3 linked regions of the Homo sapiens genome follow. The protein of the gene in region 1 purifies or fractionates together with the protein of each later gene. This does not show direct contact. Each region holds a gene or a part of one and is shown on either strand. Other genes may lie near its edges. The genes, in order: CMIP, RILPL1 and GNA11.

Region 1 (4,164 bases):
CCCCAAGGAGGCATCTCCTGGGCAGGCTGGATGTGAGTCTTCTTTCCTTGGTGAGGGATGCAGCCTGGGACCTGCCTTTCATCCCCTGCCTGAAACCCTGGCCAGGCTCGGGGAGAGGGTCCTCTGGGGAGCACCTTCATGCTGCCTGTTCTTGGGAGAGGGGGGGTGAATAATTTCCACCAACGGCACAGATGCTGTGGATATTCCGCAGTGTTCACGACGCAGTTCAACACACGCTGCACACATTCATGTGTTCACTACAGAGGCGCCTTCACTTAAAAAGGCAAAAATCTAGGGTTTTAACGTTATTAGCTGCAGGAGCACGTGGAGATAAGAAAACCTGGCTGAGGAGCTGAGCATTTGCTAGGTGGCCTTAGGTGCCGGCTGCTTGTGATGGCAGAAAGGGAGCTTTTTGCATCCAGGCTGCAGTTCCTGATACCCTGGGTCACAAGAGAATCGAATATGGTTCTCTCGTGGGCTGGTGCTGGGCCTGTGAACTCAGATAAAATGACCAGGTGGGGTCCCAGGGAAGGTGAAGTAGGGGGAGCTGCTGGGGTGCGCACAAGAGGGGTGGCTGTGTAGGTTGGGGGGTGCTTTAAGTGGGTTCCTAGAAGAGGCTCTGTCTCCCTGGGCAGAAGAAAGAAGGGGGATGGGCGGACCGTCCCCTCTCTCCAGAAGGTTTGAGGACCCCCAAGGCCAAAGCCAGCAGACGTCAAAGGCCAGGAGTTCGAGGCCGGCTGGGTCCCGCAGTGGGAGACAGGGCAGGGTGGGCTCATCCTCCGGATCACCGCGGGGACACTTTCAGTCGGGAAGGCGTCCCCGTCCCACGGCCCCATCTGGCCAGCCCGCTGGACAGCCTGGACAGCGGAGGGGGCGTCAGGGGTCGAGGGTTCCAGTCCCCGTCCTTCCACCCAGCCCCCGGCCCTCGGGTATCCTTCTTTACCCGTCCGAGTCCGGCCCGGGGGCGGCGGGGGTGGGTGAGGCGCGGGCCCCCAGGCTCCGGCAGCCTGGCTGGGCTCCCGCCCGGGCACCCGCGGGGGCGCGGCTGGCGTGACGTCACGCGCCCCGCCCCCGCGCCCCGCCCCCTCCCCACATTCCAGGCGGGGCGGGCCGGGACCCCGCGGGGCTCGCCCGCCCCAGCCCCCTCCCCAGGGGCTGCCCCTCCCGTCGGGCCGCGCCTCCCCGTCGTGGGCCGCGACCCCGCCCGGACCGCGGACTCCGCCCGCGAGAGGCCGAAGCCGCCGCGGCCGCCGCCGTTGCCGCCATTGACGTCAGAGGGGCGGGCACATGACCCTGCGGGGACCAATCGCGCGGGCGCCCCGGGCTCCGGGAGCCCGGCGCGCGGCCCGCCCCGCCCGCGGCCACTCTCGCCCGGACGGCCGCGCGGACACACGCTCTGTACACACGCGCGCGGCGGCGCGGGGCCCCGAGACACGCCCGCCCCCACCCCGCCGCCCCCACCCCGGCGCCCGCCCTCCGCGCCTGGCCCCGGCCCGCCCTCGGCCTCCCCCGCCCCTCCCCGTCGCCCGCCGAGCCCGGTCAGCCGCCGCGAGCATGCACCCGACGAGCTAGGAGGAAGCCCGGAGCCCCGCAGGAAGCGCCGAGGCCGGCCCAGCCCGCCGCACGCGCCGCCCCCCGCGGGCAGCGCCCCCTCCCCTGCGGGCGCCCCCAGCCCCACACCCCCCCACCTTCCCGGGGGGTGGGGGGGTGCGGGCCGCCGGATCCGGGGGCCCCGCCGCCCCAGCAGCCCAGGACAGCCCCCTCTCCCCGCCCCCAGCCCCCTCCCCCGGCGCGGCCATGGATGTGACCAGCAGCTCGGGCGGCGGCGGCGACCCCCGGCAGATCGAGGAGACCAAGCCGCTGCTGGGGGGCGACGTGTCGGCCCCCGAAGGCACGAAGATGGGCGCCGTGCCCTGCCGCCGGGCTCTTCTGCTTTGCAACGGGATGAGGTACAAACTGCTGCAGGAGGGCGACATTCAGGTCTGTGTCATCCGGCACCCGCGGACCTTTCTCAGCAAGATCCTCACCTCGAAATTCCTGAGGCGCTGGGAGCCGCACCACCTAACGCTGGCCGACAACAGCCTGGCGTCCGCCACGGTGAGTGGCTCTGCGCGGCTGCACCCCCGCCTCTCCTCGGGGCCCGAGATGCGCCCTCCCTGGCTGCCCCCTGGCGCTGCACCTGGAGCCCAGGGCCTGGGGGGCGGTGGGGGGTGCCGGGGGAACGGGGAGAACCAGGGCGCCTCGCTCCTGGCCTGCTCGCGGGGCTCGATTTTGGAGTCTGAAGCCCAAACCAGCCGACCGGGCTCAGGAGAGACCCTTAAAATGCTGGAGACTCGGCCCACCGCCAGGCTGGGTGCCTGGGGACCTTCTGCCCCCAGCTCTTGTGTTTCTGGTGGCTGGGACTCGAGGATGGACCCGACGCTGGGCCCTGATGGTGGTGGGGGTTCTCTCTGGAAGCCCCTGGCCCATCTGGATCTGAGGGGTGGGGGAGGGGAAAACAAAATACCACCCCTCAGATTTAAAAAAAAAAACAAACAACACAACAAAACCTCCAAACCCCCAAACCCAAAGAATTTCCAGAAGCCAGTTTCTCTGTTTGGTTTACCCGTCCTTTATTCTCTTTCCTGCCAGGGCTGGCAGGCAGAACGGGGTGCTTCCCTTTCTGAAAATCTCATTCGCACATTGAGAGGTTGGAAGTGGAGGGGGAGGGGGCAGTGGTCCTGGAATATCTCAGGACCCAGCGGTGGTCGAGTTCTAGCCTAGAAGCTGCTTGGTGGAGCCCTGGTCCGGCATTGTCTGTAGAGTGTGTGTATACGTGTGTGTTTTGTTGCTGGAGGTTTAATTTTGTTATTGTTTTTAAATACATGGGTAGGACTGGGTCAGCTGGATGAGTCGGAGAGGAAAAACCATTGATCTGTTTCTGAAATCAGATCTGCAAATGGTGGCCTTCTTCGTACGTGGAGAAAGACAGCTGTGGTGGGGTCGAGGGGAGAGTGGGGGTGGCGGGTAGGAGCCTGAACAGGATGCTTTGTGTTTTGAAACAAGGACAGTTTCAAATACCGGCTGTGGCTTGGGCCTGAGGCTTGCCGTGGGGGTCCCATCCTCATTGGGGGTGTAGCTTGTCTTCCCCAGAATGCACACTCCTCCCTGGGGCCACCGTGATCCTGTTTACTAAGCGCAGTGGGAGGGGGCCGAATCCACTGCCTGCCCACACCTGTGCCAAGAAAACCCAGCCAGGAAATAGGGTGTCGCTTACATGGCATGTCACAAACGTGTAGCGTGTGTAGACATTTCCCTGGCATCCATGTTCCCTTGGCGGTGTGTCACAGGCCATGACACATGCCCCAAGGAATGGGGAGGGGGGAAAAGTTAGCTGAAGAATCCTACTCTTTGAACCAGTCCCCCACCCCCCACCCCAGAGCGTTGCAGCCCTCGAGGACTTTTATTCTTAATTTGGGGTCCGACATGCTTAGAGCACCTATTTTCTCTTTCCTGTGGGCACGTTGGTGCAATATCTGCAAAGACTCCTTTTTCAGGGAGGATTGCTGGTCGCGGGGAGGCGGCCCAGTCCCCGGTCAGGCTGGTGCATGTTCTCAAGCCCGTCCCGCGCCACAGGCCGCAGCATTTGGCTTTCCAATGGATGGAGGCGGGAGAGAGCCTCCGAAAATTTGCCAGTACGGAGTGTTTCTGATGTGGGGAGGAACTGGTGACCGCGGTGCCCCCTGCCTGGATTCTGGAGACCCCAGATCTGGCTTCAGAATTTTCACCTGGCTCAGGGGGACTTTATTGGGCTTTTTTTTTTTTTTTCCTCTTACACTCCACAAAATGAAGGGTTGTTGGTGGTGGGGTAGGAAAATGGTTAGAAGGAACAGTGACCTGCCATGGGAAGGCCAGGAGGAGCCCCTTCTCCCTCTGGGAGAAGCCAGGAGTGAGTGTCCCGCTGCTACCGTCCTGTTTCCGGAAAGCCAGCTCTCGAGGCTAATGCCTCCCCACTTACCTCCGATTGCTCAGGAGGTATATCTGAGAGAAAGAGGGAAGGAAGAAAGACCTGAATAGCCAGAGGCCCCTCGCTCACCTTGGCCAGCCCAGGTAGGTGGCACCATCGGTAGTGTGGGCCTTTCCGGAAAGCACCTGTCTAGTACTGGGGACTGAGGCTTATCCATG
Region 2 (3,541 bases), on another chromosome or scaffold:
TCCGGGGCTCAAGTGATCCTCCCACCTCAGCCTCCCAAGTAGCTGGTACTACAGGCATGCACTACCACGCCCAGCTAATTTTTGTATTTTTTATAGAGACAGAGTTTTGCCATGTTGCCCAGGCTGTTCTCAAACTCCTAGCCTAAATCAATGCTCCCACCTCAGCCTCCTAAATTACAAGGATTATAGGTATGAGCCACCGTGCCATGCCTAAGATCCTTAACTTAATCATCTCTGCACAGTCCCTTTTGCCATGTAAGGTAACATATTCTCAGGGATTAGGACTTGGATGACTTTAAGAGCCATTATTCTCCCTGCCCCAGCCAGTTACACTTGACTGATATTCTCTGAGCCCCGTGTGAGCCCAGCCTATGCCAATTGGAAACAGAGAGGAACAGGGCTGGATGAGCCTCTTTCTGCTTCCAGGCCCCATCTGCTTATGGGAGGTCAACATTCCCTCTCCATCCCTCCACCACCACTTCCACCCCGGCCCTGCCCTTCACCTCCCCTGGTGACCTTGCGCCCTCTGTGCAAATACTAGGCTATTACTCCTCTCTTCCCCAATGCAGCAGGCTTCTGACAAAGGAGGTGGGTCTGAGAACTTATTTAGAAGATGGACAGAGGCCATGCCTAGCATCCGGCCACCTGGCCGCTTGTGATGAATTGTAGGGATGGGACAGAGATCAGCACACACATTGTTAGTGCTTTCTGGGTGCCGGGCATATTCCAGGCGCTTTACTTATAGTAACCATTTAATCCTCACACCCACCCTTCCCGGCAGATACCACACTAGTTTCCTCATTTGTGGGGCACCAGAAGGCTGAATAACTCGCCAAGGTCAGCTAGTAAGCAGCAGAAACAGGATTCAGACTTAGGGCGGCAGGCTCCAGTGTCCATGCCTTGAACCACTATTTTATTTTATTTTTTATTTATTTTATTTTAATTTTATTTTTTGACATGGAGTCTCATTCTGTGCCCCAGGCTGGAGTGCAGTGGCTTGATCTCGGCTCACTACAGCCTCTGCCTCTCAGGTTCAAGCAGTTCTCCTGGCTCAGCTTCCCAAGTAGCGGGGATTACAGGTGCCCACCACCATGCCCGGCTAATTTTTGTATTTTCAGTAGAGACGGGGTTTTGCCATGCTGGCCAGGCTGGTCTCAAACTCCTGACCTCAAGTGATCCGCCTGCCTTGGCCTCCCAAGGTGCCAGGATTACAGGTGTGAGCCACTGCGCCTGGCCCTTAAACCACTGTTTTATACAGACAACAGCAACCCTGCTTTGTGAGCTAGCTTACGGTTTTACCAAGTACCGTTTTTTTGTTTGTTTGTTTGTTTGTTTGTTTTTTGCGGGGGTGGAGGGCTACCAGCTTTATCAATATAATTCAGATACCATAACACTCATTTAAAGTGTACACTTCTGGCTGGGCACGGTGGCTCACGCCTGTACTCCCAGCACTTTGGGAGGCCAAGGTGGGAAGATTGCTTGAGCCCTGGAGGTTGAGACAAGCCTGGGCAACATAGCAATACCCCATTTGTTTCTTTTTTTTTTTTTTTTTTTTTTTTGAGACAGTGTCTCACTCTGTCACCCAGGCTGGAGTGCAGTGGTACAATCCCAGCTCACCACAACCTCCACCTCTGAGATTCAAGCAGTTCTCCTGCCTCAGCCTCCTGAGTAGCTGGGATTACAGGTGTCTGCCACCACACCCGGCTAATTTTTTGTATTTTTAGTAGAGACAGGGTTTCACCATATTGGTCAGGCTGGTCTCGAACTCCTGACCTCAAGTGATCTGCCCACCTCGGCCTCCCAAAGTGCTGAGGTTACAGGCATGATCCACCACACTCAGCCAGCAATACCCCATCTCTAAAAAAAAAAAAAAAAATTAGCCAGTCATGGTGGCGTCTGCCTGTAGTCCCAGCTACTGGGAGGCTGAGGTGGGAGGATCACTTGAGCCCAGGAGTTCAAGGCTGCAATGAGCTATAACTGTGTCACTGCACTCCAGCCTGGGTGACAGAACAAGACCCTGTCTCTAAAAATAAATAAATAAGATGTACACTTCAGTGGTTTTTAGAGTTTTGCAGCCGTCATTATGATCACCATCAATTTTATTTTATTTATTATTATTATTTTTTCCAAGACAGAGTCTCACTCTGTCACCCAGGCTGGAGTGCAGTAGCATAATCTTGACTCACTGCAAACTCCGCTTCCCAGCTTCAAGTAATTCTCCTGCCTCAGCCTCCCGAGTAGCTGGGATTACAGGTGCCCACCACCACACCCAGCTAATTTTTGTATTTTTAGTAGAGATGGGGTTTCGCCATGTTGGCCAGGCTGGTCATGGACTTCTGACCTCAAGTGATCCGCCTGCCTTGGCCTCCCAAGTGCTGGGATTCCAGGCGTGAGCCACCACGCCCTGCCACTATCAATCTTAGAACATTTTCATCACCCCCCAAAAGAAACTCCGTACCTATTCCCAGTCATTCCTCGTCTCCCCTCTAGCACTCTGGCTCTAGACAACCACCCGTCTGCTTCCTATCTCTATGGATTTGCCAATATTAGACATTTTGTAAAACTGATCATATAACATGTGACCTTTTGTGTCTGGCTTCTTTCCATAATGTTTTCAGGGTCCACCTATGTTGTAGCATATGTCAGGCTTTCATTCCTTTTCATGGCCGAATAATGTTCCATTGTATGGATGTGCCATGTTTATTTACCCATTCATCAGCTGATGGACACTTGGCTCCTTTTGGGTACTGGGAATAATGCTGCGAGGAACATTCACCTGCACGCGTTTTCATGTGGACATTGTGTTCATACCTCTTGAGCCGATCCAAGGACTGGAGTTGCTGGGTCCTATGGTAACTCTGTGTTAATGTTTTTGCGAAACTGCCAGAGTGTTTTCCAAAATGTCCGCAGCATTTTCCATTCCCACCAGCAGTGTAGGAGGGTTCCAGTTTCTTCCTATCCTTGTCAGCACTTGTTATTGGCTATTTCTTTGACTGCAGCCACCCACAAAATAACTTTAATAGACTGATTTTATTTATCCTCACATTCACTTCGTGAGCCTTTGTTTTGGTTCCACCACTGAGGGAAACTGAGGCTCAGGGTGATCGAGTCAGTGGTTGAAGACCCCATGGAGAGATACCTGGATCAGATACCTAAGGAACGCTGGGGCAGGGGGCCCCGTCTGCCTCGGCATCCCCAGGATTCTCGAGGCCTCTGGCTCCCTTGGAGAAAGGTTTGTCCCAACTGTCTGTCCAGAGATCAGGGGGTGTGCCCCCCAGAGGTTAGGAACGTTCGGACCCCCGTATCCTGGGGCTGCTCTGTCTACTCTGAAGAGAGCTCCAAGATGCGGCATTAGCTTTGTGGTTGTCCTTGGGGGCAGTTCTAACTGAGCCAGGTCCTAACAGCATAAACGCAGGCATCTGCCCCAAAGAAGGGTGGCTTCTGTTTCTTGCAGAGGTGCCATATGGGACTCGTGGTGGCCTTGCCGGCCCAGTTCTCACGAGGAAGGGGATGGCCCAAAGTCCCAGCAACCCAAGCTGCC
Region 3 (4,269 bases), on another chromosome or scaffold:
AAAAATACAAAATTAGCCAGGCATGGTGGCGCGCCTGTAATCCCAGCTACTTGGGAGGGTGAGGCAGGAGAATCACTAGAGCCTGTGAGGCAGAGGGTGCAATGAACCTAGATCACGCCCCTGCACTCCAGCCTGGGCGACAGAGCAAGACTCCATCTCAAAAAAAGAAGAAGAAAAAAAAGATATCCCTTGGGTAGGGTTAGCTTAACGGGCTTACAGCAGTGCCTGGTATCCTGTAGGCATTTCATGAATGCGTATACCTGGCCTGGAATGGTGCAGGCACTGCAGTAAGGCCTGATTGACACCTGATGGACAGCAGGCACTCCATTAATCTCTGGTCCGTGCCTGGCATATAGAATGTGTCCCATTAATGCCTGATACACAGTAGGTGTCCCATTAACGCTTTTTAATTTTTTTTTTTGAGACAGAGTCTCGCTCTGTCGCCCAGGCTGGAGTGCAGTGGCATGATCTCAGCTCACTGCAAGTTCCGTCTCCCGGGTTCACGCCATTCTCCTGCCTCAGCCTCCCGAGTAGCTGGGACTACAGGCGCCCGCCACCACGCCCGGCTAATTTTTTGTATTTTTAGTAGAGACGGGGTTTCACCGTGTCAGCCAGGATAGTCTCGATCTCCTGACCTCGTGATCCACCCGCCTCGGCCTCCCAAAGTGCTGGGATTACAGGCGTGAGCCACCGCGCCCGGCCCTCTTTTTTTTTTTTTTTCTTTGGAGACGGAGTTTCGTTCTTGTTGCCCAGGCTGGAGTGCAATGGCGTGATCTCGGCTCACTGCAACCTCCGCCTCCTGGGTTCAAGTGATTCTCCTGCCTCAGCCTCCCGAGTAGCTGGGATTACGGGCGTGCACCACCACGCCGGGCTAATTTTGTAGTTTTAGTAGAGACGGCGTTTCTCCCTGTTGGTCAGGCTGGTCTCGAACTCCAGACCTCAGGTGATCCGCCCGCCTCGGCCTTCCAAAGTGCTGGGATTACAGGCGTGAGCCACCGCGCCCGACCTCCATTAACGCTTTTTAATGGATGAGTGAAGGTTCCTGTCAGGCAATGTCAGGGCGCTTCCCGGGGGCAGCGACTGCTGCCCAGGCACCTGGAGACCCAGAGAGCGCAGCGGCCGCGTGCGCGCCTCCGCCACCGCGCCTGGGCCGAGCCGAGCGGGACCGAGCGGGGCCGAACGGAGCCGAGCGGAGCCGAGCCTGGCCGGGCCGAGTCCGCCACATTCCCACAATCCCGGGCGGCCCCGCCCCGGCTCCCGGCTGCGCGTCCCCCTTCCCACGTCGGCGCAACCAAACCCGCGGGCCCCCCGCCCTCGCCCCGCCCCGCCCCTTTCGCGCCCGCCGACGCCCCGCCCAGGCCGCTAGTCCCGCCCCCATGGTGGGCGCGCTTGGCCGCCGGCCCCTCCCATTGGCCGCACCGTCTGCCCGTCGCGGGCTGCGCTCCCAGCCTGCTAGGTTGTCCGGCGCTGTCGCTCGGTTGCGGCGGCTGCGGTTGGCGGTGGCTGCGGCGGCGGCGCGGGCTGAGTGCGGCCGCGCGGGAGTCCGCGGCTGGCGCGGCCCGAGCGGGGACCCGGCGGCTCGCCAGGCGGCGGCCGAGGCGGGGCGGGCCGGCCCGGGGCCGAGGGCCGGTGGCCGAGGCCGGAGGGCCGCGGCGGGCGGCGGCCGAGGCGGCTCCGGCCAGGGCCGGGCCGGGGGCCGGGGGGCGGCGGCGGGCAGGCGGCCGCGTCGGCCGGGGCCGGGACGATGACTCTGGAGTCCATGATGGCGTGTTGCCTGAGCGATGAGGTGAAGGAGTCCAAGCGGATCAACGCCGAGATCGAGAAGCAGCTGCGGCGGGACAAGCGCGACGCCCGGCGCGAGCTCAAGCTGCTGCTGCTCGGTGAGTGCGGCCCCCGGGCCTGCCGGCTGCGGGCCCTGCCCTGCCTGTGCCTGCCCTGCCTGTCCGGGTCGGGCCGGGACCCTCCGGGGTCAGCCCTGCCTGTGCCGTCCGGGTCGCGAGACCCTCCGGGGTCAGCCCTGCCTGTGCCTTCCCTGCCTGTCCGGGTCGCGGGACCCTCGAGTGTCAGCCCTGCCTGTGCCTTCACTGCCTGTCCGGGTCGGGGCGGGGCCCTCCGGGATCAGCCCTGCCTGTGTCGTCTGGGTCGGCTCGGGACCCTCTGGGGTCAGCCCTGCCTTTGCTGTCTAGGTCGGCACCTGGGACCCTCCGGGGTCAGCTGCGGGCCCCTGATTTCTTTGGGGTCAGCCCCTGCCTTAACTGTTCATGTTGGCACCTGGGACTCTCCGGTGTCAGCCTGTGTCTGTCCTGTCTGGATCAGGCCCCCGATCACTCCTAGGTCAGCTCCCAGCTTCTGCTGTCTACATTGGGCCTCCAGGACTCTTCAGGATTTGCCCTCTGTTCCTTCTCAAGGGACCAGTCCCTCCCTGCACAGGGACCTTCTGACCTTACCCCACCGGAGTACCCACCCCTCGCTACCCCTTCAGGGCCAGACCTTTGGGCTGTAACCCACAGGGCACACTCACCCCTCACTGCTCAGGGCCCCGCGTTGACCCTTCCCTCCAGGCAGAGCCCTGTACACTCCATGCAGGCCCTGTACCCTCCATGCAGGCCCTGTACACCCCCCCATCCCCCCGAAGACTCCTCCGTGTCCCCTATCCCCACATTCCCTTCAGGGCCATTCTCCTGCCTTCCTGTTCCGGGAAACCCCGTACTCCTCTTGGCTGGAATGCACCCTGTGGGAAAAAGACAGTCTTTCCTCTCCTCAGGGTTCCGCTCAGCTGAGGGTGGGGCGGTTGACACCTGAGGGAGCCTTTGCTTGTTGTCCCAAGCAGCTATCTCGGCAGCCTCCCCCGCCCCCTTCCTTAGAGTCCTGGTGGGAGCCACGCTGAGTCCTCGTTGAGAGCAGCCCCCCACCTGCCGGCTCCTCCCCACCGTCCTGGAGAAGGTTTGCTGGTGAACCTCCTTCTCCCCAAGGCACACCTGCTGCAGGGAGCCAGTCGGGCCAGCTGTAAAGTGTTGTCACTCCAAATAAGGGCCCCTTCAGTGGTTTACAAAACAGAAGCTCTTGCCCTGCCCCGCCCCTGCCCTCCCGAGCTCCTAGGTTAGCTCCTGGGCCGGGGGCGGGGCGGTGGGGAAGGTCGGAAATGCGTGAGAGGCAGCGGTGACGGAGGAGGGGGCGTGCTGGTGGCGGTGGCTCTTGGGGAGGAGGCAGGTCGCATGTTGTGTGGGGAACACGTTGCCTCTCCTGCCGTGAGCCTCTTAGGGCCCTCCGTGTCCCGGGTTACAGAGGTGCCTTGGATGAAACGCCTTCCTGATTTTTTTCCCCAAACTTGTGTTTTGATTTACCTAAGGGTTCTAAAATGGGCCATCTTTCCAGGGGGCCGCGGGTAGGCAGAGCCGTGGTCCTCACGTTTGGAGGAAATGTGCAGTGCGGCCCGCGTGGTGGCACTTTGCACAGAGTGGCACTGGCTGGCTTTTGTAGTGGGTCGTGGACTTTGTTTGGATGGAGGGGAGTTAGGAATTACTGGTGTCATAAAGATCTTACCAGATGGCCTTGCCCTGTGGCTCTGTGACCTCCAGAACCCCCGCCGCCATCCCTGCATGCACCCGGTCTTCTGTGCCTGCACTTTGGACTTGAGATTGACACGGGGTTCAAGGACGAAGGTCAGGGGCTCCCGTGTCTGCCGCCTTGGCTGCTTGGAGCAAGTCTGGAAGTGATGCGGCCCTTCCCGCATCCTCTGTCCAGTGCCCGCCTGTGGCCCGGGGGTGTCTGCTGCAGGAGCACCTGTGTCTGCAGTCCCACCCCCTCCCACTCTGTGAGCCTGAAAGTTGACCCCTATCAGCCTGTAAGACGGGAGGTTGCTGTCAGGCTCAGGGCCAGGCGTGGCAGATAGGACAGTGAGGAAGATGTGAGCTCACGTGCGACCCAAGGAGGACTGGTGTCAGTGCCACGCAGAGAGCCGGGGCTGTCAGGGGGTTGGGAGGGCTTCACACCCAAGGTGTTGGAGCCAGGGACCCCTTTGGGAATCTGATGCGACAGACCCTCAGAAAACTTCCCGTCCAAGCAACCTTGCATCCCAGCTGGAGGGCCCCTTGCTGGGAGGACTTTGACCACCTGAGGTCCAGGGGCTGGGGCCTCAGGGTGCAGGGGAGGGGACCTCTGTCAGGCTCCCTGCCTGCTTGTGGGAACTCATTCCACTCTCCCAGTAGGCCAGCCCCGAGCTTGCGATTGCCCCCGTTTTTCAGGGAGCAGCTAGAGGGTGGGGCCGAG

What was found.
Region 2: the proteins of CMIP (region 1) and RILPL1 purify together in Homo sapiens (affinity purification with mass spectrometry; one large-scale study listed by BioGRID and IntAct). This does not show direct contact.
Region 3: the proteins of CMIP (region 1) and GNA11 purify together in Homo sapiens (affinity purification with mass spectrometry; one large-scale study listed by BioGRID and IntAct). This does not show direct contact.

What each region holds. Positions count from the first base shown.
Region 1 is NC_000016.10:81,443,445-81,447,608, forward strand, and holds the start of CMIP (C-Maf-inducing protein), read left to right. Parts: upstream 1-1,363; 5' UTR 1,364-1,797; coding exon 1,798-2,097; intron 2,098-4,164. UniProt on the Homo sapiens protein: Plays a role in T-cell signaling pathway. Isoform 2 may play a role in T-helper 2 (Th2) signaling pathway and seems to represent the first proximal signaling protein that links T-cell receptor-mediated signal to the activation of c-Maf Th2 specific factor.
Region 2 is NC_000012.12:123,523,719-123,527,259, reverse strand, and holds part of RILPL1 (RILP-like protein 1), read left to right. Parts: intron 1-2,301; exon of another isoform or gene 2,302-3,232; intron 3,233-3,541. UniProt on the Homo sapiens protein: Plays a role in the regulation of cell shape and polarity. Plays a role in cellular protein transport, including protein transport away from primary cilia.
Region 3 is NC_000019.10:3,092,908-3,097,176, forward strand, and holds the start of GNA11 (guanine nucleotide-binding protein subunit alpha-11), read left to right. Parts: upstream 1-1,454; 5' UTR 1,455-1,744; coding exon 1,745-1,880; intron 1,881-4,269. UniProt on the Homo sapiens protein: Guanine nucleotide-binding proteins (G proteins) function as transducers downstream of G protein-coupled receptors (GPCRs) in numerous signaling cascades.